Homo sapiens: one gene and its partners. The protein of the gene in region 2 purifies or fractionates together with the protein of the main gene of each other region. This does not show direct contact. Each region holds a gene or a part of one and is shown on either strand. Other genes may lie near its edges.

Region 1 (4,573 bases), on a different chromosome or scaffold from region 2:
AACAAAGAGTTTAGGCCGGGCACAGTGGCTCACGCCTGTAATCTGAGCACTTTGGGAGGCCAAGGTGGGTGGATCACCTGAGGTCAGGAGTTTGAGACCAGCCTGGCCAACATGGTGAAACCTCGTCTCTACTAAAAATACAAAAAATTAGCCAGGCATGGTGGTGGGTGCCTGTAATCCCAGCTACTTGGGAGGCTGAGGCAGGAGAATGGCTTGAACCCAGGAGGCAGAGGTTGCAGTGAGCCAAGATCGCACCACTGCACTCCAGCCTGGGCAACAAGAGCAAAACTCTGTCTCAAAATAAAAAAATAACAATGCTATGCAGCCATCATCACTATCTAATTCCAGACCATTTCATTACACCAAAAGGAAATGATGTATTCATTAAATAGTTGATAGACTTTTAAAGCTTAGTTCAATAATTTTTAAGTAGTGCATAATTCCGATATTTGGAGATTGATAGGTAATAGAAGACAGGTTTATTAAATCCTTCATAGAATTCCATAATAATAAAAATTATATCCATAAAACTGAAATCCAAATATTAAATTGTGTTTTCGATTTTGAAAAGGTAAAAAAAGGCAAATGCTAGTGTATACAGTGTTCTAGTTGGAAATGATTAGAATGTGATATTTAAAAGGTGACACGTTAATACTTTAATTGGCAGTTATACTTCTAGGATATGATTTTTGCTGATCATATCTAGGCTAAGATTTTATGTCATACAAACATAAGTGTTTACAGTCAAATCTTGCAACTCTTTATTGAGCAGACAGACATTCAGATCATTTTATGTTGCGTAATGCAGTGAATGTGTCAGAAAACCTCCAGTCTTGTTTTCTTTTAAAGCACAACGTGGAAGTTCTTGGAATACTTTCCGATGATGTAGAGACTGATACCGTAGCCCCAGGTGAAAACCTCAAAATCAGACTGAAAGGAATTGAAGAAGAGGAGATTCTTCCAGGGTTTATACTTTGTGATCCTAATAATCTTTGTCATTCTGGACGCACATTTGATGCCCAGGTAAACAAATTATTGTTGTTGTCATAGTGGGTTTTAATGTCTAAATGAAATTAGAATATCAGTGCCTTTTGTCCTGATTATTTGTGACATGCCAGTTAACCCATCTTAGTGTAGAGAAGGGGAATGGAAATATTATAAGCCACTTATATATCATAACCACAATAGGCACCTCATACAAGGTCTTCAAGCTGGTACAAGTGCTTACTGGATAAGGAGTATTCTTTGTAAGTTCCTTTTTATGTTTGATCTCCTGATGATACATTCTACAGTATCTAATATTCACTTTGACCAGAGCACAGTTACTGTGGAAGTCATGGTTTATGTGCTCATTGACAGCACATAGCTTTCCAGACAAGAAATCACACAGGTTTCCCTGTTATTAACAATCTAACCTCCCTGGGAGAATGACAGAGTAAGTGACTGGTGTGAATAACAGAATTTTTTAAAGTTCTTTTCTAAGGTATGACAACTAATCAAGTTAGATTTTGATGCCAGATGTAAGGTTGTTTACTTTACTGGACCTTGGATATTGAGAAATGGATAAAGCTGGATAAGTTTACATCTAGGTAGCTTCTGAGCGGTAAAAATTAGCTTAGTTCCTTGGGGAATATAAGGAAAGTCTTCCCAGATAAGAAAGTTGGCCTGCTGTCTTTTGTTTTGTTTGGAGATGGGGTCTTGCTCTGTCACCCAGGCTGGAGTGCAGTGGCGCGATCTTGGCTCACTGCAACCTCCACCTCCGGGATTCAAGCGATTGTCCTGCCTCAGCCTCCTGAGTAGCTGGGATTTAGGCGCCCACCACCACGCCTGGCTGATTGTTTTGTATTTTTAGTAGAGACAGGGTTTCACCATGTTGTCCAGGCTGGTCCTGAACTCCTGGCCTCAGGTGATCCCCCCGGCCCCCCTGCCGCCTCGGCCTCCCAAAGTGCTGAGATTACAGGCGTGAACCACTGCGCCCAGCCAGCCTGCCGTATTTTGAAAGTTGACCAGGGACTTGCCAAGAAGATAAATACAGGATAAGATACTGAAATTCATGCTTTGAGTTCAAGCAGCCTGACCCATCCTGTGAACAAAATTAGTAAGACAAACCTATCACCTCTAACACAAAAATCACTTAAGTTGATGTCCTAGTGAGATGGTAACACTAATTCTTGGGATTTATATGGCGCTTGAGAACATTGAATTCTTATTTACCCTAAGGCTAAAGATAAGAATGTGTGTGTTTGTTTGACAGATAGTGATTATAGAGCACAAATCCATCATCTGCCCAGGCTATAATGCGGTGCTGCATATTCATACCTGTATTGAGGAGGTGGAAATAACAGTGAGTTTAAGATAATTGGTTTATTTCTGTTTTAATACTGTTTTATCTTCATAATTTCTAATCAGCAACAGTGATGCACTTTTATTTCTACACCTGTTCTTAAAGATTATTTTATTTGGCATTATTCTGATTTTCTCATACTCTTTTCTTGGTTAGGCCTTAATCTGCTTGGTAGACAAAAAATCAGGAGAAAAAAGTAAGACCCGACCCCGTTTTGTCAAACAAGATCAAGTATGCATTGCTCGCTTAAGGACAGCAGGAACCATCTGCCTTGAGACCTTTAAAGACTTCCCTCAGATGGGTCGTTTCACCTTAAGAGATGAGGGTAAGAGCTTTTAAACTGACGTCTAGTAGTATATCCAGGATACCTAGCTTTGGTCATCTTCATCATCTCAGTACAGTACACATTGCAACAGGTTCACAGAAAACTTCGATTCACATTCTTATTCGTATGAGTGTTTTATGAGTTGAATGTATTGAACAGAATTGACCACGTGCTTTAGTAGTAATGCCAAATCTAGTAATGCTCTACGTGAAGAATCTTAATTTTGATGTTTTGTGAGTAGTGGATTTGGAGGGCTATTTTGTTTACTAAGATATTTCTATGATGTAATCCTTTGTAATATGTCTAGCGATTAAAAGGAACATAGAGATTGATTTTTTTTTTTACACCTAATTTTTCAGAGGTCTAATCTTTGTGACCTTTTGTGTGCATCCATTTCTGCCTACCTCTGGGTGACGCAGAACAACTAACATTCCCATCTTGGGGTCATGAAGTTCTTTGGCATAAAAACAAAATGATTGTTATGAAACGTTTCCTTATGAGCTTTTAATATTCCTGTCCTTTTCCTTTCCCTTTCCCTTTCCCTTTCCTCTTCCCTTTCCTTTCCTTTTTTTGAGATGGAGTCTCGATCTGTCACCCAGGCTGGAGTGCAGTGGCACCATCTTGGCTCACTGCAAGCTCCACCTCCCAGGTTCACGCCATTCTCCTGCCTCAGCCTCCCGAGTAGCTGGGACTATAGGTGCTGCCACCATGCCTGGCTAATTTTTTGTATTTTTGTAGAGACGGGGTTTCACCACGTTAGCCAGGATGGTCTTGATCTCCTGACCTCGTGATCCGCCCGCCTTGGCCTCCCAAAGTGCTGGGATTACAGGCGTGAGCCACCGTGCCCGGCCCAGCTGTTAATATTTCTAACTTAGATAACCATTTTAAGACTATAGAAGACTTTACATAAAACTTTATAGTTCCATTGAAATACAGAATAGTCATTTCACATGTTCATTCCAATTCCATTTAGCAAAAACTACTTTGTATCTACAAAGTGTCAGGAACTGTGCTAAGCCCTGGTGATGAATACAGTTCCTGAACTTTACATTGGATGAAATTGTATAAAGACAGTGTTTATTTTACTTTAAAGGCCCAGAACTCTTCTGGTTGATAGTAAAACTGGTTATTGGGTTTATCTTATTAATATAACAAAATGATAGTTTTAGTTTACCACTCAGAACCTGATAAAATCAGGAAGACAGAAGAAAAGCAATTAATGTAGCAGGAATTCTTAACCCTAGAATTATTTTTTCCTAAAAGCTAACTTGGCTTTAAAAAAAAAAAAAAAAAAAAAAAAAAAAAAGCTAACTTGGCTTTTAGGTTTTCCACAAGACCCAATGGGTTTTGTATCCTTTCAGTCCACAGGATTACTACCAGAAGGACGTGTTCACTGCACTGTAGTCAGTGGTGATTGCTGTGCCTTTTCACAGTTACTTAAGGATAGGTTTTGGGATTTTTTTTTTTAGCAGCTTTATTGAGATACAATTTCCATAATATGAAATTGACCTGTTTTAAGTATGTAATTCAATGAATTTTAGTATGTTTACAGAATTGTACAACCATCACCATATACTAATATTAGAACATTTAGAACACCTAAAAAGAAACCTTACACCTGTTCATAATCACCCCTTATTCCCACCTCCACCCCAGGCAACCATTTTTCAATTTGTCTTTTATAGACACTCCATAAATAGAATTATAAATTATGTGGTCCTTTGTCTAGTTTATTTTACTTAGTGTGATTTTGAGGTTCAACCATGTAACATGTTATTTATTCCTTTGTATCACTGAATAGTACTCCACTGGGTGGATATTCCACAAATACGGATATTCCCTTTTCTTATTTTTAATCCAAAGAGGTTTTTTGGCCCAGTGTGGTGGCTCACCCCTGTAATCCC
Region 2 (4,573 bases):
CTTTGGGAGGCCAAGGTGGGTGGATCACCTGAGGTCAGGAGTTTGAGACCAGCCTGGCCAACATGGTGAAATCCTGTCTGTACTAAAAATATAAACAATTAGCTGGGTGTGGTGGCAGGCACCTGTGATCCCACTACTCAAGAGGCTGAGGCAGGAGAATCGCTTGAACCTGGGAGGCAAGGGTTGCAGTGAGCCGAGACTGTGCCACTGCACTCCAGCCTGGGAAACAGAGTGAGACTCCATCTCAAAAAAAAAAAAAAAAAAATCCTACTGTTAAAATTCTAGGTAAAATGTATCAAGACAAAATTATGGATCACAAAAAAACTACAAGTATTTGCAATGAGCCCTGTCCTAAATTTCTACCAAGGCCTATTTTCATTCCAGAGTAATAATATGGGTTGTTTTCTTTTTCTCTTTTTTTTTGGAGACAGTCTTACTCTGTTGCTCAGGATGGAGTGCAGTAACATAATCTCAGTTCACTGCAACCTCCACCTCCTGGGTTCAGGTGATTCTTGTGCCTCAGCCTCCCAAGTAGCTAGGTTACAGGGATGTGCCACCACACCTGGCTAATGAGACAGGGTTTCACAACGTTGGCCAGGCTGGTCTCAAATTCCCAACCTCAGGTGATCTGTTCACCCAGACCTCCCAAAGTACTGGGATTACAGGCGTGAGGCAGTGCGCCCAGCCCAGTTGTTTTACTTTTTCCAATAAACCATACAAGTAGATTCATAAGCAATTATGTATGTGAATTCGCATTGTTCAGTATTCTTATACTTTTTCCACTTGCTAAATAAGAATGGCACCAATGTGAAAGCATGCTAAGGAACTAATATCTAAGTAGCAATAATCATCAAGGTTGAAAGTCTGAAAAAAGGAATCCAAACTGCTCTTTATAGCCTAAAGTATAAATAACAGAACTAAAAAAGAAAGTATGGGAAAAGCCCATCAACACAACCACCACCTTAAAAAAAAAAGGTTGGTCTTAGAGGGAGGAACAAAGTATCATTACACTGGCAATGGTAAGTTACCCCTGTAATCATCAAAAACAGACTCAATCAAGTAGGTGGGTCCCCAAATTTGTGTGTAAGGTGTTGAGAATTTAGGAGGACATTATGGTTGTTTCCAAGCATCAGATCTGAGTTCAAATCTATCAATTACTTGGGAATTCACCAAAATATTTCTCTAAGAACTTGTTTTGTGCCACATACTGTTCAAGGCATTGGAGAGATTATAGAAAGTAAGCCAAAAATGAATCCCAGCTCTCACAGAAGAGTCTAGTAAAAGAAAAAAGTGTCAACAATCCTAAGTGTCGTAAGAGGAATTATACAAGGAACACAATGGTTATTAAGTGGAGACCTAAAAAGCAGTTAGGAATTATCAAAGTGAACAGACTGGTTTTCAGGTAAGCCTTAGCAAAGGCCAAGAGTTAACCTGATTCACTATACCAGAATTTTCTCATCTGGAAAATGAGAATGTCATCACAGTAACAAGAATTAAATGACATTAAGTACATAAAATGCCTAGCCCAGCACCATGACCGGCACCTAGAAAGAACTCAAAAGGGTGGTAACTTAACACTACTAACAGCACTACACAAAAAGGCATTTAAGTGCTTTAAACATAAATATAACCTAACATGCGGTTTCTTAAAGACACTGCTACTACTTCTACTTATGTTCCCAAAAGTGACATAAGTCTGACCCAGCCAGTGACTTATAAGAGGTCCTTAAATTATGTAAAAGGAAAAGAAAGTCTTAAATTACCTTGTCGGTCCTGCTGCCACGGTTTGGGCGCCCACCACGCCCACGTCCACCTCGTCCTCCCCTGCCGCCACGTCCTGGGCGGCCAAGGTCTCCAAAATTGATCTCCAGCTGAGACGTTATATCATTTGCTGGCTTCCGGAAATGATGGTCCATAACCGAATCTTCAGCATGAGCCTAAAAATATAAGTGAAGATGATTGTGTTATTAGTAGAAAAGTAACATTGCAAAATTTCTAAATAATGAGCTTTCTTCTAAAAAAAACCAAAAATCCAAACTGTACTTTCTGTGAACAAATGTCTCAATGCCTCCACAGGTAACAAGCTAGGGCTCAGCTTTAGTGATCCTGGAGGAAGATTTTCCTGCACTTTTCTCTATCTCAAAATTGCAGGTAATACCAGCAGTCCTCAACTAAAGACATGTATGCTATCACAATCAACCCAAACGGCTGAAGCCCATCCTAGACCTACTGAATCATAATCTTTAGCAGTGAAATCTGGACAAGTACATTTTAAATATGCCCTTCAGATCAGGACTGCCATGTGAATCCTTGATGAAGACCTCTGGAGAGATGACATATAAGGTTACTACTAGCACTAACACTGAAGTTAAAAAGAACACTCAGAAAGAAAAACTCTGTTCTACACTCTTCCAACTACAACTAGGGTAAAGACCTTACTAGATATAAACTTCTCAGAAGCATTTTCTGTTAATACACAACCACTACGTTTTTCTACACAAATTGGAGAGCTACAAATTCAAGTGAAACACTACACACTTTACATAAAGAGGGGAATCTTGTAAAGCTATGCACAAATAAAACCACACCTTAAATGTGTCACAGGAACCTTTTTTTTTTTTTTTTTTTGAGACAGGGTCTCACTCTGTCACCCAGGCTGGAGTGCAGTGGCACGATCTGGGTTCATTGCAACCTCCACCTCCCAGGCTCAAGCGATCCTCCCACCTCAGCCTCCCAAGTAGCTGGGTCTATAGGCACATGCCATGACACCTGGCTAATTTTTTTGTATTTTTTATAGACAGGTTTTCACAGTGTTGCTCAGGCTGGTCTCAAACTCCTAGGCTCAAGCGATCCGCTGGCCTTGGCCTTCCAAAGTGCTGGGACTACAGGCATGAGCCACCATGCCCAGCTAGAAACTTCTTAAAAATGAAGTCATGTTTGTGAAATCCAGATCCTCTTTTCTATTTGCGTTTAAGATACATGACCCAGTCTGGGGGAAAAAAGCAAAAAGCCAGACAATTCTATACTGCTTCATGCCTGATGTCTTCTTGTACGCTTGGGATGGGTTTTAATCTTCTAGTTGAAAACTGTACTTATAGGACTTGAAAGTACAGCTTTCTTTTCCTCTTTTCCTAAATACATCTAAGGAATCTTCTTTTCTAAAGGGATAAAGAACATTTTGTTCTTTCATTAGAACTTGTACTATTACAATTCCATTAGACTCAACTTAAAATATTACAGCTGTTAATAACTAGCCTTTAAAGTACAAATAAATTTTTGTGTTTTTATCCATGTTTTCACCCCTTACATCAACTCATACTAGTATTAAATGTCACTCCTTTGTACCAAACCAACACACTGTAAGGCAATAGAATGTTCTAATACAAATTTTAAAGGAGGCTAGAAACATAAAAACAAATTCACAAAACACCAGCAAATTAGAATCAATTATATATACTAATTGTGTGATTTTTAAATGTTTGCTATTTCAAACCAATGCTTTCAATTTATTGCAAACCACAGATCGAAAATATTCAGAAAAAAATAAAACCAACCAACCATATAACAATAAAAAGTAGGCCAGGTGTGGTGGCTGACACTTGTAATCCCAGCACTCTGGGAGGCATAGGCAGAAGGGCTGCTTGAGTCCAGGAGTTGGCACAGGTGTGTAGTTCCAGCTACTCAGGAGGCTGAGCTAGAAGGATCGCTTGAGCACGGGGAGGTTGAGGCTGCAGTAAGCTGTGACCATGCTACTGCATTCCAGCCTACATGACAGAGCAAGACCTTGTCTCAAAATAAAGTGTATGAGGGAGTGCTCACTTTGGCAGCATATATACTAAAAGTGGAACAATACAAAGATTATTAGCATGATCCCCACAAGGATGACACGCAAAACTGTAAATTGTTCTATATTTTAAATTAAAAAATAGAAACAATAAAAAATAAAGTATAGGGAAAACGTGTTTAGGCTATATGCAGATACTATGCCATTTTATATAATGGACATGAGCATCTGAAAATTTTAATATCTCTGGGTCCTGGAACGAATCCCCTGCAGATACCAAGAAACTGTACTGGGATAAAGTCAGGGCAGGGGGATCCTTTTTTTTTTTCTTTTTTCCTTTTTTTGAAACAGTCTTGCTCTGTCAACTAGGTTGGAATGCAGTGATGCTATCTTGGCTCACTGCAACCTCTGCCTCCTGGGCTCAAGTGATCCTCTCCCGCCTCAGCCTCCCAGGTAACTGAGACCACAGGTGCACGCAACCACATCCAGATAATTTTTATATTTTTTGTAGAAACAGGGTTTTGCCATGTTACCCAGGCTGGTCTCAAACTTTTAACTCAACAATCTGCCCACCTCAGCCTCCCGAAGTGCTGGGATTACAGGTGTAAGCCACTGTGTCCGACCTTTTTTCTAGAGCACTCAGACAATGAGGAGCAGAAAACAGAAACTCTGAGCTCTGTCAATAACACGGTAACACAGTTCTCCATTTGTAAATAGTTTCTTCCTTCCCCTTAACTACCTCACATTTGTCACGAGAATGAAGACATGTGAAAGTTAAAGTGTTGTTTT
Region 3 (3,931 bases), about 41 Mb from region 2:
TTGACCCCTGGTTACTTCCGGGTGTTACAGGTAAGTACCCCTGATCAACGGTTTCTGGCACGACTGACCCCTTCCTCCCCCTACCATAGCTGGGTTGACACCCCCAACAGCCAGGCTGTCACGTTCCCTGCCGCCTGAGCAGGCAGGCCCAGATGGGCAGTGAGGCGAAAGGGATTGGGGTGGAATCTCCCTGGGGCAGGACCGGCGTCCATGTCTCCTTCCCCTAGCTACATCTACTCAGCCCTTTCCCACTCCCCACCTTCCTGGCAGTCTCAACTGACCCCTGAGGCACACCCTCTGTGCACCTCCAGATGCAGGTAGCTGGTGAGCTGAAGGCAGAGCCCCGGAGTCTGCTGGCAGGAGTTGTGGCTACAGTGCTAGCTGTCCTCGGCCTGGGTGGCTCCTGCTATGCCGTCTGGAAGATGGTGGGGCAGCGGCGGGTGCCACGGGCCCCGTAACGAAGAAGAGAGACTCTCACTTGGATGCTGGGGGTAGGTGACTCGGGAGGGGGGTGCAATCTCAGAAGCCTTCTTTTCTGGGGATCAGTCTCTGTCAGAAGCAGGACAGAGTAATCTGATCCCACTCCCGCCACCCCACACTGCATCAGGCCTCCATCTGGGTGCTCCAGTTCAGATGCTAGGACCTCAGAGGGAAGGCAGAGATAGACCAAGTGGGGAGTAGACACCCTAGGCCTGGTGTACAGAAAGTAGTAGAGAAGCCCTTCCAGGGCAGGAGTTTGAGACAGCGGCCTGGAAGTTAGAGTTGGAGGCAAGTTCTCTTTGTCCAGTTCCTTTATTTGGGGCAGGGCACCAAGAAGAGGCCCTCCGCTCCCCAAACCCAGAGGCAAAAGGGGTTGGCACGCTCCCTCCCAGCCTAGTCCTTGCGTCACTGTCCATGGGCAATTCCTCTGCCCTGCATCTTCAGGCCATGTCAGGTAGAGGTATCCATCTCAGGGACCTCAGTGGACACTTCCGTGGGCACTGCCAGCCGCCTGGGGGGCACATAGGATCCCATACCCGCTGCCCTCTCCGCCTCTTCCTGACTGTAGGGCTCGACGCTCAGCTGCTTCAGCCTGGGAGAAAGAAAAACAGGAGTTGGGAGCTGACCAGGTGAGAGCCCTATCTGCTGAGCACCCATCCATCAATCCTCTCCTTACTCCTTCATACCTTTTCTTGTGGTCTTTGGATCGGAAGTGGGTCTTCAGGTTGGTGGAATCGATGAAGTACCTCCTGTAGGAATGGAAGTGAGAAGGAGAGTGAGGAGGTGATAGTCTCCCAAGTGCACCTATCTCCCTAGCCCTAGCTTGTCCCTGACGCCAGGATCCGGGTCTGAGAAACGGGAGGCGGGCGGACCCACGGGTCCCAAGAGAGAAGACTCTGCGCTGCCTGGGGCTTCAACTTCACATCTCCCGGCCGGTACCGCGGACCCTCCTCCGCCCCAGGCCGGGCTCGTCCGGGACTCACGCGCAGGCCAGACAGCGGTGCAGACCGCCCCCTGGCAGGTCGGGGTCGAACTCGGCGTTTGGGTCGGGCTGGGGTCGTGCGGATCCCTGAGGCCGCAGCTCGCGGTGAATCTCATCCAAGTCCGGCCGCCGCCGCTTCGCCTTCATCTGCCGGGCTAGAGAGTGCGCTCGGTGCGCGCCTGTCCGGCGGGAGCGACCCATGGCCAGAAACAGCCCGGCCGGCCAAGGGGCCAGGAGCAGGGCAGGGAGCACACGTGTGAGCACTTCCGGGCCGATCAGCTACGTCAGGCCACGCCGGGGGGCTAGGCAGGCTCGGCCGGACCGCCTCTGATGACGTCACTCTCGGCCAGCGGCTCGAGCGCCGCCAGGCGGCCGTCGACGTCAGTGACCGAGCTCAGGACGGGCTCCCAGAAGTGTGCCCACTGAAGGGCATGGCCCCGCGGGCCCTCGCTGGGGAGGCGCGGGGTGGTGCGTGCGCCTGGGGGTTTCGGGGCCGTCTTGCTGCCCTGCTCTTCCTGGCCTGGTCCAACCAGTATCAGTGCCAACCTGTACTCCTGTCATCCCTTCCTGTTTCCCAGACCTTGGACTCCGCGGTGGGGGTGGGATGCTTTATCTCTGGAAAGCACTGATAAATGTCTGTGTCATGAATAAATTAGTAAATGACTGAGAGTGAATAAGTTTGGAATCCCAGCCCCACCAGGGCTTCCCGAGATAATCTCCAGTCCCTGAAAAAGCCCTCACTTCTCCGGGCTCCCGTTATTCCCTTGAGTCTCCATCCTCTCTCTGACCCCAACCAAATCCGTGAAGGGTGTTCCTCCCCAGAGAGTGCAGTCCTCAGGCATCCAGACTCCAGAGGGATCAGTTCCTCTCACAAGTACTCATAGAAGGACCTCTCCATCTTTGCCTCCTTTCTCTAAGCCCTGGGCTCCCAGAGGTGGGCTGGCAGCAAAGGCCTAGGTGTTGCATGCTCAGAGTGGCTAGAGGGCCTTTCCCCATTCACAGGAGCCTGGTGCCTCCCAGGCTGGCCAGAGCCAACTCAGCTGGAAGGGGCCAGAGGAGCTTAGCAATAATTCAGGGGCTCCAGCTCTTTGGAGTCTGTTGCCAGGAAACAAGGAGACAGGCACGTGTATCCCTGGGGAGAGGAATCAGTTTCCAGCCCAGACAAAGGAGTGAAATGTAAGCCCAAGGTGCCCACTGGGGGCCTGCGGACCTTCCTGCTCCAGTTCATTGAGGCTAAGTAGGGACACAGGGTGGAGCCCTGCTGAGGACACAACTAGTATGACTACAGTCACAGGGGCTCCAGTGTGGGTCCCAGACCTCAGGATTTTGTGAATGGAAGAAGATTTTCCTGGAGGCATGCTAAGAGATGAACAACTCAAGTACTCCTAGGCCCAGGAAGAAAGCCTCTCTAGAGACAAATGACTTCATTATTCTTGGCCAATATGGGTCAAGACAAGGGGCTAAGGTGGCAGAAGCTTGTTCCATCCCCCACTCCCCGACTCCTTTGGATCAGGTTCACCTCCTGGGCACTGTGCCAGCTGGGGAGGCTGGTGCATCTTTAATGAAGTCACTGGATCCCTCGGACAGGCTCTTGGCCTCACCAAGTTCCTAGAGCCAGACTCACTGGTATCCACTGAGCCACCACCTTCCTGTGCTTGCGTGCCAGGCCCCTTCCCCCTGCAGCCATGAACCAGGCCTTCTGGAAAACCTACAAGTCCAAAGTGCTACAGACCCTGAGTGGGGAATCTGAAGAAGACCTGGCAGAGGAGGTGGGTGCCATCCATGCATGGTGGGTGGAGCATGTGCAGAGGGGCAGCAGGAATGAGCAGTATGAAGTGGGGCACAGGATAGGCTTGGAGGTGGGGGGGCCACATTTGTGCAGATGCCACATTCAGGGATGGTAAAAACCATGGTGCAGCATCAGAAAGCCAGGACATTCAAGAAAACTGAGGAAGAAAAGACTTAGGGACCATGGGAGGAGTGGCCACTGTCTCCAAAGATCTCGAGGCTGCCACATGGAAGAGATTCTTCTAGGACCAGTGGGCAGTAGGCACACGGGCACACTTAGCTGGACACAACTTTCTAATGGGAGCAGAAGTAGGAGTGATGTAGTGAGCCCCATGTTACTAGAGGTAGGGGGAGTGGCGCCTGTACTAGAAAGGTCACTGCAGCAGCATCAGATCAAAGCCATACTTAGACCATGCTTTGTTCTGACATTACAAAAAACAAGCAAACAAACAACAACAACAAAAAACAGGCTGGGCCGGGCACGGTGGCTCATGCCTGTAATCCTAGCACTTTGGGAGGCCGAGGTGGGTGGATTGCCTGAGCTCAGGAGTTCAAGACCAGCCTGGGCAACACGGTGAAACCCAGTCTCTATTAAAATACAAAAAAAAGTAGCCAGGCATGGCGGCGTGCACCTGTAATCCCAGCCACTTGGGAGGCTGAGGTAGGAGAATTGCTTGAGCC
Region 4 (4,573 bases), on a different chromosome or scaffold from region 2:
CTGTCATGAATTTAAAATAAAATTATGTGAGGTTTCTTAATGACTTGTTTCTCCTGGAACATATAGTTTTTTCATACCCTGTTTCATCCAGGTTCTTATAGCTTTTGAAAAGCAAATTGCAGCTGTTTTTATCCATAATTATCACTAGCTGGACTTGCTTGTTTCCAACATCCTCATATTTTCATAATGATTGAGCACATAATGCAAGCAACTATTTCCAAGAAGATCAAAGTATGAATAGAAAGATGATGCTAATGACTGAATAACAGATATTTGAAATTTTTCTTGAAAAGTACCCAGTGAAAATTTTACAGGCTAAAATCCAACCTATGCAAAGATCAGATCTGACAACAGCAGCACAAATCTGTTAGTTGTACAATAACTTTCTTCTGTGATTCAGTCCATTTCCAAAACCAGCTAAAAGGATATCTACTTATGCTAGTATTCATAGTAGTAACTCTTCAAGAATAGTTGCCTAATTTAAAAACACTAGAAAATATGTTAAACATTCCACTTAAAAATCTTTTTCCCCCATTCTTGTTTGATATGCTTAAGAATCTTGATGCTTTAATTACAGACAAATTTCAAACCTACTTCTGAAAAGCCTAGTATTTCATTATATGCAGTTTTCCAGTAAGTTGGCAATATAATGATGATGAAGATAGCAGCTACAATTCATTGAACGTACAAAAATGCAAAGCATGTATTCTGCTGTAAATGCATTATCTTACCCACCAACATTTTAAGGAAAGACTTATCTCCATACACTATTAAAGATGAGAAAACAAATGACGTGGTGAAAAGCAAAAAACTATAGTGAAGGAAGAATGAGAGAAAAGAAAAGAAAAAAAGAAGAGAAAACAAAGGCTTAGAGAGGCTGTGTAATTTACCCAAGACCAGCTGGCCAGCCTCCAGAGGATTTGAGATCCTAACCTAAATAGTCTAACCTGAGTCCTCCATGCCACTCCACTTTTATGACTAAGCCGTGCTAGGCTCCTCTTAGACTGTAAAGTTGTCTCTTCAGAACTTGAAACACATGTTTATGCAAAATGCAACTGTGATTGGCTGGACTGCCAGTCTTGTCCATAAGACCCTATTAAGCCCATAATGTTCCTAAAAATATAGAGGATTATAGAACTTACATCTAATAACTCTTGTAACTGTGCTTTATTGAAAAAAATAAATGTAAATGGCAAGCCAGGATCACATCTTTCCTTGTTATAATTTTAGCAGGAATGGGGCCTCTGTGAACCCTAAACCAATGGTGGTAAGCTCTAGTGGCTGGTCAGGCAGGGCAAAAGACGAGGGATACAGACTTAAGAGTCTGGTAAAGAAGCAGTGAGATGACTGAAGAGGAACATGAAAAGAACTTAGAAAGAAGCTATGGGGAAGCAAAAAATAGAACTAGGAATTTGGAGTAGGACAGTAATAAGGCAGTTTTCCTTATCTTGTCCTTAAGCTTTCCATCTGAATAACTGTGTAATACTGTGATAGGGCCAGAGGGAGAGGATAGGAGGGAGGGGGGATGGGGGAGAGAGAGCAAATGCAAATTGAAGTTTTCTCTTCCTTTATGTATTCTGTATCTTACTATCTATCCCCTTCCAGTGGGCAGCTGCACTGCAAACCCCACAGCTAAACAGCATTATTTAATGAAAGAATGGAGGCTGGTGGAAGAGGACACTCTTGTGAGGCCTACATTGCTGAGACTAGATAGATCCTAAGCAGAGGCAAGAAGGATATACAGTCATAGCAGGATTCAATTTGGCGGCAACAGTGCGTAAGTCTGAGGATTGAGATTGTCTGTACTGGTCTTTAGCCATTTGATTAACGATACTTTAATGTCTCTATTAAGACCCAAAAGAGTTATGTCAACCATTTTTCCCTGTTTATTTCCTTCTATATATTTTTAATAATAATACGGTTTGTTTGGATTTATTATTAATATCTGGTAACATTATTTAACCATCTTGTAATATTGCATTTGATTGATTTTTCTTTCTTTATGCATTCTCTAACATTCCCACTGATCTATTCAATTGCTCTGGTCTTAATTTTATAAATAAGCAATAACTATGAAACTCTGTGTTGGCAATTTGAAAATAATATTTAGCAGCATATTTTCCAAGTACATACACAACACACAAATTCCATAAATTAGAAATAATTATGGCCCCAAATTACCATTTACATTTATTTTCTATTCAAGAACTCTCTCTCTGAAAGTATAATAATAAAAATATGAACGATACTTACCCTACTAGGCCTACATCAGCTATAAGTTTTAGATCAAGGTGAATTATTCGTTTCTGGCCTTTCAATGGTAAGAAATTTGTAAGTAATTTACCACCAAGACCTCCTTGAGCTACCAAAATTCTGTCATTTTCTTTATTGAGTTCTCCTTAAAAAGAGGGAGAGAAATACTTACAGCAAAGATTAATAAGTGAAATCACTAATGCAATATATTTCTTTCAGAAATACAGGCAAAGAAATGCAAAATTACAAATCTATAGATTAGTAAGTGAAATCATTAATGTAATATTTTACTTTCAAAAATACATGCCAGGAAATTCTCAATTACAAATCTATAATTAATAAGTAGAATCATTAATGTAATATTGTTCTTTCAGAAAAACAGTCCAGGAAATTCCAATTTACAAATCTATTAAAAGTTTGACCCCAGAAAAACACTTCAGTAAACAATTGAAAAGAGCCTAGTTATATATTTTAAGACCAAGTAAGAACTGTAACATCTTTAAAACAATCTTAAATCTAGCAGTCAATTTAACTTTTATAAGTTTTAAAAATGCTCTCTTATAGAATAGTAGCTAAAATTGTTAGTTAAAAAATCTTCTGAAACTCAAGAGAAGCTATTCCATTGTTTCATTTTAGAAAACGTGCACATTTTTACAACTTTTGGAGTTATAGTACACTCACCTATAATTTTACCATTTTCATCAGTTACTGAAATACCCACAGGCACAGGGATTTCACAGTCTTTTCCTTTGGAGCCTTTCAGTGCACTAATTCTACCAAAAAAAAAGTATATATATGTATGTATGTGTGTGTGTATATATACACACACACACATACACACAAAATGGTTTACAAAGAAGAGTAGCAATCAATTCTCTGGTTAACGCAGATGTTAAATGGTCAAACACGGGGTTTAAAAAAACTAAAATTATCCCTAATTATTTCTTTGCATTTTAGACTATTATATCCCACTAAAATGGCATTAAGTAATGATTTAAGTTACTAAGCTAACCACCAAAGGTCATTTTAACCCGAAACTAAAATATTGCAACCATGAAATGAAGAGATTATTGCTACAATACAAATAGGGTAGAAAAAGCCAGGCGTGGTGGCTCACGCCTGTAATCTCAGCACTTTGGGAGGCGGAGGCAGGAGGATCTCTTGAGTCCAGGAGTTCAAGACAAGCCTGAACACCATAGCACGACCCCATTTCTACAAAAAAAGAAAAATTTAAAAATTAGCTGGGCATGGTGGCACATACCCGTAGTCTCAGCTACTTGGGAGGCAGAGGTGGGAGGATCACTTCAGCCTGAAAGGTAGAGGCTGCAGTGAGCTATGATAGTGCCCACTACACTCAACCTAGGCAACAGAATGAGACTCTGTCTCAAAAAAAAAAGAAAAAATGAATCTATAAAAAAAAAAAGAAAATCCACCAAATAGCAAAGCTTTTAAAAAACTAACCTCAAATGAGAGTACTTACATTATAGAAGGCAAATCTGGCTACTCTTAAACTGCTCATAAAAGAAAAAATTAGTACAAATGTTTTAGTAATTCTACTTCTGGGAATTTATCAAAATAATAATTGAACAAACATGTAAAATAGTATCTACACAGAATGCTGCACTGTGGTTATAATCGGAAAAAAAAATCAACAATAACCTAAATAGACAAATGACAAAATAGTTATTTATTATGCAGGTATTCTGAATAATTTTGACATGTGAAAAAAAGTAAAAATAGCAGATTGTAAAATACTGTACTCTCATTTTTGTATTCTAAACTTTTAGGCACATAATTGCATTTGTGTAAACACACAGAAAAGTCTTAGAAAAGTCAAGAAAAGGTTAATAGTGGTTATCTTGCCTTCTAATGGTGGTGGGGTAGAGTAGCATGGTTAAGACTGAAAGTTTTCTAAAAGGTTGTCAAAGATAATTTTAGAAGAAAACAGTGGGAATTCAGATAATTATCGGTTTCTACAGGGGAAGTGCAAAAAGAATACAGATAGACATTGGGAAAAGAAACGGACAGAAAGTTTTAAAACTCTGAAATATTCTTTAGTATCAGTCTTTTATGAGTTGAGACATTTTAGGCTTTTGCTTGGTTATAAATACAGGAAATAATTTACTTCAAATTAACAATTAAGTTTTTATTTTGTAACTAAAAAAAAAATTTCCAGAAGGGTTTGATTTTCTAAAATTTAAGTCATTCAGTAATTACTTACTTGCTGTTTGCTCCTACTCCAGCCACAAACCGTTTCCGAGGATACCTGTCTTTAAGTTGTTTTAAAGTCATTCTGTTCTGGGCTACAACCCAGACATCA
Region 5 (4,573 bases), on a different chromosome or scaffold from region 2:
ATCAGTCTTTAGGGAATAAGATAAAAGTAAGAGAAAATGGCTTCCACTTCAGTCATTTATAAATCATCTAGAAAGGGCTTCTAGTCCCCACACATCAGTGGGTATTCAGAATCCAACGTATAGTTATTTCTACAGTGAATAGAAATAAAAGACATTCTATTTCTTTGTTTTTCCATCTCCCTTTCCTGGTAAATAAAACACATTCTAAGGTAAGAATAGATAATGTGAAAATTACAAATTTTAATCAGTTCCTGAAATGCAAAGTGGAAATGAAGTCATCTCTAGTTCTAGCCACAAAACTAAATTAACTGTCAAAATTTTCGTAATTAAAACATTTTAAAATCACTTGTACATTCATTCTAGACTACGTGATGATGTAATGTCAACCACCCCAATAAAAACAGAGACATCTACTCTTCAGGAACCTACTATATAAGAAACCATAAGTGAAGCTGTTAGGAACAGTATGAAAATGTAAGGAACTGAAAATGAACCCTCTCAGACACCAATTGGTAAAAACAAACACATCTCATTTCCAAAAGGTAAAAAAATTACCTGTTTAGAGTCCTAGCAAGATACTTTGTTCCATTTCTATTGGCCAGAGATGGATATTTCTTTTGAAGAAAAGCATACTCATCACGGATTGAATCAGTTACACTCTTCTTGTTGTTAATATCTAGCTGGCTCCTGAGGTTGAAAAAATAACGAAACTATTCAGCTTAACTGTTGTCCTCTTCCTACCTTAGATGATGACAGCACCAGGCATTGTTCTCTAATACCTGACAGGGACTGTTTTATTTAATTCTCACAATAATTTTATGTGGCAGGTATTATTACCCCATTGTATAGCAAGGAACTGAGGCTCACAAAAACTAACTTACCCCAGGTCACACACTAACTGGCATAGCCAAGACTTGAACTAAGTGAATTGTAAGTAACTAGTGCCTAAATAGAGTAGGCCTCATTATTACCATTAACTATAGACAAAAACAATAAGTAACAGGTATAGACAGGTATAAAAATATAAGAGTATCTTAGTCAACTGTATATTTTATCCATGGACAGGGAACTAATTTCTCCCAAAAATAATTAAGTTAACTTGAAGAACAATCATCTACAAACAACGAACAGTGTTAGGCCACCTCCTTACCTGAAAAAGGAGACAGCTGGAATTGGGAGTGGGGATGGGAGAATGACAGTGGGGATGGGAGAATGACAGTAGGGTTGGAATGGAAGGACATTAAAATAGAAGCAGACAACTGGAATGGATCTTATGTATCAGGCAGTAAAAACATTTTCATTTTCTAAAGGCTTGAGACCCAAAGACATTAGGTGTCATTTAAACCTACGTTGTATCTAGTTTATGTAAGAACTAGGACTATAACTCAGATTTCATGATAATTTCAGTGTTTCCTACCATATGAAGGCTTTGGACTAAAAGAGATATTCATCCGAATCCAGCTCTTTCACTACCCACGTGACTTTTGGTTAAATGTATAACCTGAGGTTTCTGATTATAAAATAGACATCAACACCTACCTCAGGGGATGCTGTGAGGATTCCAAGAGATACCATTTGCAAATTGCTCACAGTAGAGTGTCTAAAACGTAATTAGACACTCAATAATAATTTCCTTTTCCCGATTTTTAATACCAACTATTTATAATTAGGATACCTTTAATAAAATTTCTCCAAGTCACATCCTGGCAATTACACAGAATCACTAATGCTAGGGATTAAACCAATCTATTAAAATCTTGTCACCTTTAATTAGACACTCAATACTAGTTTCCTTTTCCCAGTTTTTAATACCAACTATTTATAAATTAGGATACCTTTAATACAATTTCTCCAAGTCACATCCTGGCAATTACACAGAAGCATCACTAATGCCAGGGATTAAAACCAATCTATTAAAATCCTGCCACCTTAAACTCTTTCTCGATTGGGTGCACATTAGATAATTTTTCCCTTACCCAGTACCTCCTCATACATAGCTTAACATGATAGGCAAGAATTCTTAAAGCCTGGCTATTACAACATTTCTTCCATTTTGTGGTATTGCTTACTTTAGAAACATTTTCCAGTAAAAATGTCTATGGGGCAGGCACAGTGGCTCATGCCTGTAATCCCAGCACCTGGGAAACCAAGGTTGGAGGATTGCTTGAGCCCAGGAAGTCGAGACAAGCCTGGGCAACATGGCAAGACCTTGTCACTACAAAAAAATTTAAAATTAGCCAGGTGTGGTGATACACACCTATAGTCTCAGCTACTTGAAAGGCTGAAGTGAAAGGATCACTTGAGCCCAGAGGTTGATGCTACAATGAGCCACAATCACGCCACTGCATTCCAGCCTAGGCAACAGAGAGAGACCCTATTTCAAAAAAAAAAAAAAATTCTCTCTCTTTTCTCCCTTTAGGGCAACGGATTCTTTAGCAATACCAAGATCATAATAAAAGGGAGAAAAAATATAGTACAGCATCACATTTCAAACAGATTTTAGAAATTCAGACTTGCTCTGAAGTGAGAATGCTTATCCCATTCTAAGAATGCTTATCCCAATTCTTATCCCATTCTAACTGCTAACCTGTTAACTACTCCAATTATTCCAAGTTTGACTGGAATAACCCTTCCCATCAATACATCCATGGCATCAGTACCCGCATCCATGAGATCAAGTTTAGTGATTACAGCTAGGGTTCTGCGACCTGGTAAATGCAAAAAGAAAAAAGGGCAAAGAAAAGAAAGAAAATGATCCATTAAATACAACTATTTAGTGTTAATAAAGGAAAACCCTCATCTACAATCCCACTTAGTATTACCTCTGTCATCATTTTGGTAATGCCTTACTTACCAGTGCTTTTTTAAAAATAATGTTAAACATTGTGTATAATTTTTTAAAACATTTTTGCCGGGCACGGTGGCTCACACCTGTAATTCTAGCAGTTTGGAAGGCCAAGGCGGGTGGATCACCTGAGATCAGGAGTTTGAGACCAGCCTGACTAACATGGTAAAACCCCATCTCTACTAAAAATACAAAAATTAGCCAGGCACAGTGGCAGACGCCTGTAATCCCAGCTGCTCGGGAGGCTGAAGCAGGAGAATTGCTTGAACCCGAGAGGCAGAGGTTGCAGTGAGCTGAGATCGTGCCATTGCACTTCGGCCTGGGTGACAGAGCAGGACTCCATCTAAAATATATATATATACTATACATATAAAATATATATACTATATTATATATAAAATATATATAGTATATATATAAAATATGTATAGTATATATATAAAATATGTATAGTATATATAGTATGTATAGTATATATTTATAATATATATACTATATATATTATATATACTATACATACTATATATACTATATATAATATATATACTATATATACTATATTTTATATATATATAAAATATATACTATATTTTATATATATACTATATATAGTATATATAAATATATATAGTATATACTATATATAGTATATTTATAAAATATATATAGTATATACTATATATATTTTATAGTATATATATTTCAGTTACAAATATATATATCTACCTAGGTATATATATTTTTTATATATATATCTACCTAGGTATATGTATTTTTTATATATATATCTACCTAGGTATATGTATTTTTTATATATATATCTACCTAGGTATATGTATTTTTTATATATATATCTACCTAGGTATATGTATTTTTTATATATATATCTACCTAGGTATATGTATTTTTTATATATATATCTACCTAGGTATATATATTTGTAACTGAAAAATGCCATAGGTAAAATTGTACACTATGCAGAGCAGGACTCCGTCTAAAATATATATATATACTATATATATATAATATATATACTATATATTTAAAATATATATAGTATATATTTAAAATATATATAGTATATATTTAAAATATATATTATATATTATATATACTATATATTATATATAGTATATATATTATATATACTATATATAATATATAGTATATATAAAATATATAGTGTATATATAATATATAGTATATATAAAATATATAGTGTATATATAATATATAGTATATATATACTATATATACTATATATAAAATATATATAATATATACTATATATTTTATAGTATATATAAATATATATAGTATATACTATATATATTTTATAGTATATATATTTCAGTTACAAATATATATACATAGGTATATATATAAAATATATATAAATATATAAAATATATATATAAAATATATATATATACCTATGTATATATATTTGTAACTGAAAAATACCATAGGTAAAATTGTACACTATGCAGAGCAGTTGGAACTCTCACACGTTGCTGGTGGGAGTGGTGTAGTCATTTTGGGAAACAGTCTGGCAGTTTCTTATAAAGTTAAATTAGCAGTCCCATTCCTAGGTGTTTAACCATGTTAAGTGAGAACCAGTGTTCATATAAAAAACTATATGCAAATATCTACAGCAGCTTTATTCATAATTTTCAAAAACTAGAAACAACTCACATATTTCTCAGATGGGTAGTGAAATACCTATGG
Region 6 (4,573 bases), on a different chromosome or scaffold from region 2:
GAGCTCAAACCCAAACCTGGGTAGTCCGGCGGTCTGTGCTCCAAACAGCGGCTCTGTGACTCCTCAGTGCGATGAGAAACAGGGCATGCCAAGCTCTCGAATTTTAACAAAGGAGATCAAAAACCCTAAACTAAATGTATTTCGAAAGCTACAATTTTTATTAGTATACAAAAAGGGCAATCTTGCTTTTAAAAAACGAATGTGATTCTTGTCTGTCTTTTGATTTTCTAAGTTTCAATGCTCTTTTTTCTGTGGTTACTTCTCACATACTGAAGACAAAGCATGAGCAGTGGAGCTCTAAGCAAATTACAGAGGGAATTCAGGGGCTCAGTGACATTTTATTCATTAAAAACAGTAATAAAAAATACAACAGGCCGGGTGCAGTGGCTCATGGCTATAATCCCAGGACCCTGAGGGGCCGAGGCAGGAGGATGGCCTAAGCCCTGGAGTTTGAGACCAGCCTGGGCAAAACGGTGACATCCCGTCTCTACCAAAAACGAAAAAACCCTCGAAAATTAGCTGGGCATGGTAACACATGCCTGTAGTCCCAGCTGTTTGGGAGGCTGAGGTGGAAGGATCGTTTGAGCCTGGGAGACAAAGGCTGCAGTGAGTCAAGATTGCTCCACTGCACTCCAGCCTGAGCAACAGAGCAAGACCCCATCTCGAAACAAATAAAAAAAAAACACTACAACAAATTCATTTCTTATTTTCATCCCTTCCAGGGATCAGAAAGCTGACACTGACAGAGAAAGAGAAGACACAGGTCTGGTTCTTTGGCACCACTTCAGAGGTCTCCATCGTCCACAGGTCAGAAAAGCAACCCAGAAAAGTATAGGACAAGTCACCTCAAACAAGAGGCAGGTGTGTGTCTGTCTCTGACTCATTCTGAAGAACCTCCTCCAAACTCAAGACTTCAACTGTCATTTCTGAGTTAATGTCTCCGAATTGCACATTCGTAACCTCAACCGTCAGACGTCCCCAAGACGAGCTCATCTTCCCCACGACAAGCTCTCTCAGTGGTCACGTGGGCTGAGCCCAGCGCCCAATGTCACATGGGGTTCTGTCACGGCTGCGTCCTAACTTTACATCCCATTGTCACAGAAGCTCCGTGTTCTCCTACAAAGCTGAAGTCTGCCTGTGCTGCTTCTCGGTTCCATGGCATTCTCCCAGCTCTCAGAATGTTCACTCAGTAAACCCCGGTGGAGACCCTACCATGTGCTGGGCATGGAGCACCACAGCTAACGAGAAGACCTGCCTGCCCGAGGAGCTGACGACCTCGTTGCGAAGAGGGACACTGAACAATCCCTGCTTTACTTTTTTTTTTTTTTTTTTTGAGACGGAGTCTTACTCTGTTGCCCAGGCTGGAGTGCAGTGGCGCGATCTCGGCTCACTGCAACCTCTGCCTCCCAGGTTCAAGCATTCCTCCCACCTCAGCCTCCCAAGTACCTGGGATTACAGGTACACGCCATCACGCCCAGCTGATTTTTGTATTTTTAGTAGAGACGAGGTGTCACCATGTTGGTCAGGCTGGTCTCGAACTCCTGACCTCAGGTGATCCGCCCGCCTTGGCCTCCTAAAGTGCTGGGACTACAGGAGTGAGCCACTGTGCTCGGCCTCAATCCCTGCTTTACTGCTGGCTTAAGTATCACCAAGGCAGGGTTTAGCGCTCTTGAGAAATACATAAGACGGTGGCCCAAACTGCCTTAGGGGAAGGGGAGTGTGGGAAAAGTCTCCTTAGGTAAATGACGTTGAAGTTAGGACCTGAGAGCTGAGGAAGCTGATCTTCAAAACCATGTTATTACATAAAACTATGGAAGAGCAATGAGTAGGCATCACATGCTTACAAGACACACACAAGCCAAACACCTGCCGGGCAAGGCGTCCTGCCCTACCTGTAGGGTGGAACTGAACAAACTCTAGGTCCTGGCAAGGAAGGCCTGCCCTGGTGATCATGGCCGTGCCGTCGCCAGTGCTGGTGTGGGCAGACGTGCAGCTGAAGTAGGTGCGCCCGTAGCCTCTGGAAACAATAGAGAGCAGTGACTGCACACAGCGGCCCACATCTGGACCTCCTATCTGGTGAGATCACAGAATGGACACGGCAGCCCCCAGCACCGTCTTCTCAGTGCTGTGCACACACAACCCCCTACTCACGCACACCCCACACATATCACTAGGGGCCGCGCCACTGGTGCTGCTACCCTGCACAGGTAGGATAGAAGCCTGGGATCAAAGAAAGGACTTCCATTTGTATTTTATTTATTTATTTTGAGATAGGATCTAACTCTGTTGACCAGGCTGGAGTAGAGTGGTGCGATCTCGGCTCACAGCAACCTCCGGCTCCCAGGTTCAAGTGATTCTTCCGCCTCAGCCTCCCGAGTAGCTGGGATTACAGTGTGCACCACCACGCCCAGTTAATTTTTGTATTTTTAGTAGAGATGGGGTTTCACCATGTTGGCCAGGCTGGTCTCGAACTCCTGACCTCAAGTGATCCTCCCACTTTGGCCTCCCAAAGTGCCGGGATTACAGGCGTGAGCCACTGCACACCTGGCCCTATTTGTATTTTAGCTTTGTGCTGTTCAAAAGGTTTCCCCAATAAGCATATACTACTTTTATAATGAAAATTTTAAAATTTTTATGGATTTTTTTCTCCCCCAGATTTACTGAGGTATGATTGATGAATTTAAAAAAAAAACTATATATTTATGGTGTACAGCGTGATGATTTATTTTGTGAAATGATGACACAATCAAGTTAATACACATCTATCACCTCATACAATTATCCTTTTTTTGGAGATACAGACGCCTAACGTCTACTATCTTCGCAAATTTCAAGTTATAATATTAACGATAGCCACCATGCTGTATAATATTAACTCTAGCCACCATGCTGTATAATGTTAACTCTAGCCACCATGCTGTATAATATTAACGATAGCCACCATGCTGTATATTAACTCTAGCCACCGTGCTGTATAATGTTAACTCTGGCCACCATGCTGTATAATGTTAACTCTGGCCACCATGCTGTATAATGTTAACGATAGCCAGCATGCTGTATAATGTTAACTCTAGCCACCATGCTGTATAATGTTAACTCTAGCCACCATGCTGTATAATGTTAACTCTAACCACCATGCTGTATAATGTTAACTATAGCCACCATGCTGTATAATGTTAACTCTGGCCACCATGCTGTATAATGTTAACTATAGCCACCATGTTGTATATTAGACCTTCAGAACTTCACCTTGTAACGGGAAGTTACACCTTTAATCAGCATCGCCACAGTCTGCATTCCCCCAGCCCCTGGCAACCACTGTCCTACTCTGTTTCTGTGAGTTGTGACTGTTTTAGATTCCACATGAGTGACATGCAGTATCTGTCTTTCTGTGCCTGGCTCGTTTCACTTAACATAATGACTTTGGGTTCATCCACGTTGTCACACATGACAGGATTTCCTTCATTTTCATAGCCGAATAATATTCAGTTGTGTATACACACCACATTGTCATTAAACACCAACACATATTTAGGTTGTTTCCATATCTCGGGTATTGTGAATAATGCTGCAATGAACATAGGGTCCAGGTGTCTCTTTGAGCTTCTGATTTCATGCCCTTTGGATATACACCCAGAAATGGGGTTGCTGGAGCACATAGTAGTCCTATGAATTTTGAGGAACCTCCAGAGTTTTCCGTAATAGTTGTACTAATTTACATTCCCACCAACAGCACACAGGGTTCCCTTTTCTCCACATCCTCACCAACACTTGCTCTTTTGTCCTCTTGGTAACAGTCATTCTAACTGGAGCGAGATGAGATGATATCTCATTGGGGTTTTAATTTGCATTTCTCTGGTGCTTAGTGACGTTGAGCATTTTTTCATACATCAATTGGCCATTTGTATGTCTTCTCTAGAAAAATATCTATTCAAGTCCTTTGCCCATTTTTAGTAGGGTTGTTTTTTAGTAGGGTTTAGTAGGTTGTTTTTAGTAGGGTTTTTTTTTTGCTATTTTAGATAGTAAGATATTATTACACATATGGTTTGGAAAATATTTCTTCCCAACCTGTAGTTTTGCTGATTTTTTGTTTGGCTGTACTGACACTTTTTAACTTTTAAAATGGTTAAAGTAACTGACAGTGTATAAAATTAAAGTTACTTATTTTCATCATGTGGAGAAGAAGGACTTACCCACCCGAGGAATCAGTATCAATACAGTACCCACTAAAACAAGAGAGATTTTGCCAGAAAACCCCATGTTGACTCTTTGGGCCACAGTTCCCTCATCTAAATTGGGAGAGGTAAGCTGTGAACCTGAGGGCAACCACTACCATCTACTGAGGACCATGCTTTCTCACCCTGAGGCAGGTGCTCCTGTCCTCACCCTTTACAGGTGAGGAACCACGGCTGGGAAAGGCCATCACCCTCACATGGTTATATCAAGGCCTGTGTCTAAACCGTTATTCTACAATGCCTCTATTTTCATTAAAATAAAGAAACTCTAAATGAAATTTATTCATTTTTATAAACAAAATAAAGTAGAAATGAGATTCCTACCCTGTGGCAACAAC
Region 7 (4,573 bases), on a different chromosome or scaffold from region 2:
TCAAAACACTTTCTTAGAAACAGCATACTCTATAATTTCTAAGGCAGAAACACGCAAATAAAAAAAATATAATATTAAAGATGGAAGGGAACTTAGAAATAACTTAGTGCAACTTCTTTGTTTTATAGAACACCTACGTCCAGGAAGTTTGTGTCTGGTTCACAGGCACAGAGCCAGACCTATAACCTCAAACACCCCAGGCCAGCCCAGTGGTCATTCTACTACACTAAGTTGCCTCTCATAAGTCATACTGAATTTTAAAACATAGTATCATATTAATAAAGATTTTTAAGGAAGGGAAAGAAACTCAACATTGATAGGATCACACTGAATTGGGGAACAACCAGTGTTTCTCAAAGGCATTCTGTGTGTAAATGCATCTTCATTGGGTTGAATTTTCCTGCACACTGCAGGATTTTAGCATTCTGATCCATGACCACAAAAATGGCAGGAGCACTTCTAAGTCATTGTGACAACCCAAATGCCATCACATTTCCAAATAACCTATAGAGGGGCAGAGAGAACTCTGTGAAGAACTGGATCTGTAGGCCAACCTTGTTTAGAACCCTAGTACCACTATCTTAGTCAATTCAGGTGCTATAGCAGAATACCACAGACTGGGTGGCTTAAACAATATTTCTCACAGTTCTGGAGACTGGGAAAGAAGTCCAAGATCAAGGGGCTGGCAGATTCGAGTCTGGTAAAGGCACTCTTCCTGGTTTCCAGAAGGCCTTCTTCTCACTGCACCCTCTCGTGGTGGAAAGAAAGTCAGAGAGCTCTCTGGGGCCTCTTTTGTAAGGGTGCGAATCTCATTCATGAGAACTCACCTTCATGACTTAATTAGGTCCCAAGGTCCCCACCGCCTAATACCATCACATTGGGGGTTAGGATTTCCACATATGAATTTTGGGGGGACACAAACATTCAGTTCATAAAAAACACTTTTAGTGACAGTTATCTCAATTACATATTTTTTAAAAATCTAAGAAAACTCAGTTTTTTCAGGGATAAGCTTGCAAAAGTCAAACTTTGACAGCAATGGATACACACATCCCCTTCTAATTTGGGAGACTTTATTTTATTAAGCTATTTGCATTTCTTATATAGTCTTAGAATGCCAGCAACATGTTCAAACGTACAATACATCTGTACCTACATAAGGTAGAGGTCATGAAAAAAGAATTTAATTTGAACATATTAACTAAAGCAACCACTTAGCGTGCTCAAAAGCCATTAATCTTCAATTTAAAAAATTAAGGTATGTGCATATGCACACATTTGCATCTGTGTGTAACTATTTTAAAATACTTACAAGATCCAGTGCTGAACCACCGCCCAGGTATTCCATTATTATCCATAATTTAGACCCCTGTAAAGCCATGAAACAATTTAATAATTACAAACCTGAGCCAAAATAACATACTAGCAAAAATGTTAAATCTCACATACTAAAGCACAGATTCTATTTGCATGTTCTCATTTATTTGTGGGAGCTAAAAATTAAAACAATTGAACCCTTGGAGATAGAGAATAGAAGGATGGTTACCAGATGCTGGGAAGGATAGTAGGGAGGGGGAGTTGGTGATGGTTAATGGGTACAAAAAGTAGTTAGAGAAAATGAGTAAGATCTAGTATTTGATAGCACAACAGGGTGACTATAGTCAATAATAATTTAATTATACTTTTAAAAATAAGTAGAAAAGTATTACCGGACTGTTTGTAACACAGAGAGTAAATGTACCCTGATGTGATCATTATACATTATATGCCTTTATTAAAATAGCTCATGTACCCCCATAAATATTTACACCTTCTTTGTAGCCACAAAAATTAAAAATTAAAAAAATAAAGAACAGATTCTAAAATGTAGGTTTAAAAATGGTTGCTTGGGAACCCCGAATATATTTTTTCCATAGAACATTCCAAATTAAAATTCTGAGCTTAGACTACCCGCATACCTTTTTGCCTATGATATAGCTAAACAAATAAAAGTACTGTTTGTTATTGTTGAACTATTAGTAATTTTTATAAAAAACAAAGCTTTAAATAATTATCTTGAATGATATTGGAAAGAAAAGATAGTTACATTAAAGAATGAGGAGGTAAATGAGGGCTTGTAGAAATTTTGGGTTTGAGTTTGAGGACAATGGATATTTTGCCTTATTTCAGTTGTTGGCTTTCATTTGTTTTGATGTACTTCAAACTTTTATCAGCTACGGTTAATGGGCATTTTTGGCACACACGGAACCTAGAAAGAATATTGTTCATTTTACCTCTGATGTAAATGGATAAGAAAAAGGGAGAGTGTAGCTTTAAAAATCTGTGCTTTCTCCAGGTGGAATTAACTTCCCTGTGAGCTGAACAAGAGGAAATGGGGCTCCTGGGAGGAATATATGTATACAAATTCTAAAACAGGTGTACACACACACATACCATTCAGTACCATCAGTTAAACACTGGAATAAACCATTAAACCCTTTTTATTTTAGCTATAGCTTAAATACAAGGGACACCTCTCTCTCCATACCATTTCATGAGTGGTATTCTCTGAATTTTTGTGGGACCAAAGAGCTGACTGGAAGTAGAATGGTTGGCTTTACTATACTGGCAGCAGCCAAGTAGTGACTGGACTGTGTTCCAAAAGTTGGTTTTTAAGTAAGATGTTCAGAATTTTAAAAGCAAGCATTTTCCCATAAAAATAATGTCTAAGTTCCTGGGGTAGTCCTCCCAAAAGACAATTTCACACAAATGTATTCATTCGTAGTATAGCATAAAAAGTACCAGAGAAACTCACTACTATTTATATCTTAACAATATTTCAAGTAGGAAAATATATTCAGCATGGTGCCTCAACTTGGGATGCCAGAAACACATTTCTCACCTTTACAACCCCAGCTGCGGGGTGAAGATTCTCAAGCTACTGCCAGTAGCCCTCAAACTCAAAAATCCCTGGGAGGTATTCAGGAGTCCAATTTAAAATTTCCAGGCATCTCCATGAGGATGTGACTTTATCAAGGCAGAGAATGGAACCCAGTGACATGATGATGAGTGCTTAGGGGATGGGAGAGGGTTGAAGAATCAGAGTGGAACTGACATTGTAGTGTGGGGAATGGGATGTGGCCTAGGGTTAGCGATCATGAAGGGAGGGCTCAGTTAATTAAGACAAAATGATTCTCCTTTCCATATGCTGACACTATGTAGAATTTGTAAGAGAAAGGGAGGAACAATATTCCCCTACCACTTCCTCCACTAATCTTGACATCCACTCTGTCCTGACATAGATGGCCAGCAGGCACTGTGAGCAGAAAGCTGAGAGTCTTGGTTAGCAGTGAAGTCTACATTAGGAAATAGAGGAAATAAATTCCCACAATACTGGTGAGGGAAGAGGAGTTCCAGGAAAGGTTCATATAACTTGTATTTGTGTATAGAACCTAGGCACTCGCAACCTGAGAATTGTGACTCTGATGTACCTTTATACTTTTTTCAAGAGAAGAAAAAAGTGGTTCTTACAATGGTGGATAGGTTAAAAATTGTTTCTTCTGCCACAAGTTTGTTTCTAACAAGTACTATACTCTATCATATGAATTCAGAGAGCTTCCCATTCACCTGACATTTAAAAGAAAAAGATCTTATAAAACATGCCTGCCTATTTTGCAGTTCTGCATGAATGAAAGCACCTGTTTTCCAAGTTAAAAACAATGTGTGCCTTTTTGTTTGTACTAATTCAAAACAGAAACTTGCCAACTGTCTGTCAGTAAAACGTGTTCATAGAAAGCTTGAAATGTGACTTTACAAAGTAGTATATACCATTAAGCATTAAAATTACAACTACTCAATTTCTAGATCTGAAAATAAGGAATCCTTATTTGTTCTGGAAATCAGTGGTGGTGAGGGCTGCACAACACGCCTGTAATCCTGGTATTTTGGGAGGCCGAGGTGGGAGGATCGCTTGAGTCCAGGAGTCTGAGAGCAGTCTAGGCAACATAGGGAGTCCTCATCTCTACAAAAAGTGCAAAAAAGTAGCCAGGTGTGGTGGCATATGCCTGTAGTCCCAGCTACTCGGGAGGCTGAGGTGGGAGGATCAATTGAACCTGGGAGGTGGAGGCTGCAGTGGGCCAAGACTGCGCCACTGTACTCCAGCTCGGGAGACAGAGTGAGACCCTGTCACAAAAAAAAAGCAAAACAAAAAAACAAAACAAAAAAAAAACCACCCAAAAAACAAACAAACAAAAAAAACACAAAATCAATGTGAATGTAGCCAATGCCAGAGAGCTGTACACTTAAAATGGCAAATTTAGTGTTAAGTATATTTTGCCTGATTAAAAAAAACATACAGCACATAAGACTTTATAAAACTGGAAGTGACAGTAGAGATCATCTTGCCAAGAATATGGCTAGAAAATTTACCACTTCTGAGTCATTTTCCTCCAGCTTGGAATGCTGTGTCCCTACCCCACTTGCACCTTCCAACCCCTATCAAAATCATTCTCAAGACTTAGTTCAAATGCTACCTCCCTAGTTTGAGGGTTATTGCACTTGATGTACTCACAGATAAGCAGGCTATTAATATGAA

Evidence for each region.
Region 1: the proteins of SERBP1 (region 2) and GSPT1 purify together in Homo sapiens (affinity purification with mass spectrometry; 2 studies listed by BioGRID and IntAct, with this or other methods). This does not show direct contact.
Region 3: the proteins of SERBP1 (region 2) and ZNF593 purify together in Homo sapiens (affinity purification with mass spectrometry; 2 studies listed by BioGRID and IntAct, with this or other methods). This does not show direct contact.
Region 4: the proteins of SERBP1 (region 2) and GTPBP10 purify together in Homo sapiens (affinity purification with mass spectrometry; 2 studies listed by BioGRID and IntAct, with this or other methods). This does not show direct contact.
Region 5: the proteins of SERBP1 (region 2) and DNM1L purify together in Homo sapiens (affinity purification with mass spectrometry; 3 studies listed by BioGRID and IntAct, with this or other methods). This does not show direct contact.
Region 6: the proteins of SERBP1 (region 2) and SDHA purify together in Homo sapiens (affinity purification with mass spectrometry; 2 studies listed by BioGRID). This does not show direct contact.
Region 7: the proteins of SERBP1 (region 2) and STK26 purify together in Homo sapiens (affinity purification with mass spectrometry; 2 studies listed by BioGRID and IntAct, with this or other methods). This does not show direct contact.

The regions. Positions count from the first base shown.
Region 1 is NC_000016.10:11,873,857-11,878,429, reverse strand, and holds part of GSPT1 (eukaryotic peptide chain release factor GTP-binding subunit ERF3A), read left to right. Parts: intron 1-849; coding exon 850-1,023; intron 1,024-2,254; coding exon 2,255-2,344; intron 2,345-2,500; coding exon 2,501-2,669; intron 2,670-4,573. UniProt on the Homo sapiens protein: GTPase component of the eRF1-eRF3-GTP ternary complex, a ternary complex that mediates translation termination in response to the termination codons UAA, UAG and UGA.
Region 2 is NC_000001.11:67,413,403-67,417,975, forward strand, and holds part of SERBP1 (SERPINE1 mRNA-binding protein 1), read right to left. Parts: intron 1,938-4,573; coding exon 1,764-1,937; intron 1-1,763. UniProt on the Homo sapiens protein: Ribosome-binding protein that promotes ribosome hibernation, a process during which ribosomes are stabilized in an inactive state and preserved from proteasomal degradation.
Region 3 is NC_000001.11:26,167,716-26,171,646, reverse strand, and holds ZNF593 (zinc finger protein 593), read right to left. Parts: upstream 1,740-3,931; 5' UTR 1,664-1,739; coding exon 1,464-1,663; exon of another isoform or gene 1,230-1,463; coding exon 1,167-1,229; exon of another isoform or gene 1,073-1,166; coding exon 931-1,072; 3' UTR 774-930; downstream 1-773. Other genes in the region: transmembrane protein ZNF593OS, read left to right, coding at 1-30, 312-458; uncharacterized protein C1orf232, read left to right, coding at 3,148-3,231. UniProt on the Homo sapiens protein: Involved in pre-60S ribosomal particles maturation by promoting the nuclear export of the 60S ribosome. Negatively modulates the DNA binding activity of Oct-2 and therefore its transcriptional regulatory activity.
Region 4 is NC_000007.14:90,352,911-90,357,483, reverse strand, and holds part of GTPBP10 (GTP-binding protein 10), read right to left. Parts: coding exon 4,475-4,573; intron 3,027-4,474; coding exon 2,935-3,026; intron 2,399-2,934; coding exon 2,254-2,398; intron 1,778-2,253; exon of another isoform or gene 1-1,777. UniProt on the Homo sapiens protein: May be involved in the ribosome maturation process. Complements an ObgE(CgtA) function in E.coli ribosome maturation. Plays a role of GTPase in vitro. When missing, disorganization of the nucleolar architecture is observed.
Region 5 is NC_000012.12:32,716,778-32,721,350, reverse strand, and holds part of DNM1L (dynamin-1-like protein), read right to left. Parts: intron 2,709-4,573; coding exon 2,588-2,708; intron 688-2,587; coding exon 556-687; intron 1-555. UniProt on the Homo sapiens protein: Functions in mitochondrial and peroxisomal division.
Region 6 is NC_000005.10:228,320-232,892, reverse strand, and holds part of SDHA (succinate dehydrogenase [ubiquinone] flavoprotein subunit, mitochondrial), read right to left. Parts: coding exon 4,560-4,573; intron 2,018-4,559; coding exon 1,893-2,017; intron 1-1,892. UniProt on the Homo sapiens protein: Flavoprotein (FP) subunit of succinate dehydrogenase (SDH) that is involved in complex II of the mitochondrial electron transport chain and is responsible for transferring electrons from succinate to ubiquinone (coenzyme Q).
Region 7 is NC_000023.11:132,060,229-132,064,801, reverse strand, and holds part of STK26 (serine/threonine-protein kinase 26), read right to left. Parts: intron 1,370-4,573; coding exon 1,313-1,369; intron 1-1,312. UniProt on the Homo sapiens protein: Serine/threonine-protein kinase that acts as a mediator of cell growth. Modulates apoptosis. In association with STK24 negatively regulates Golgi reorientation in polarized cell migration upon RHO activation.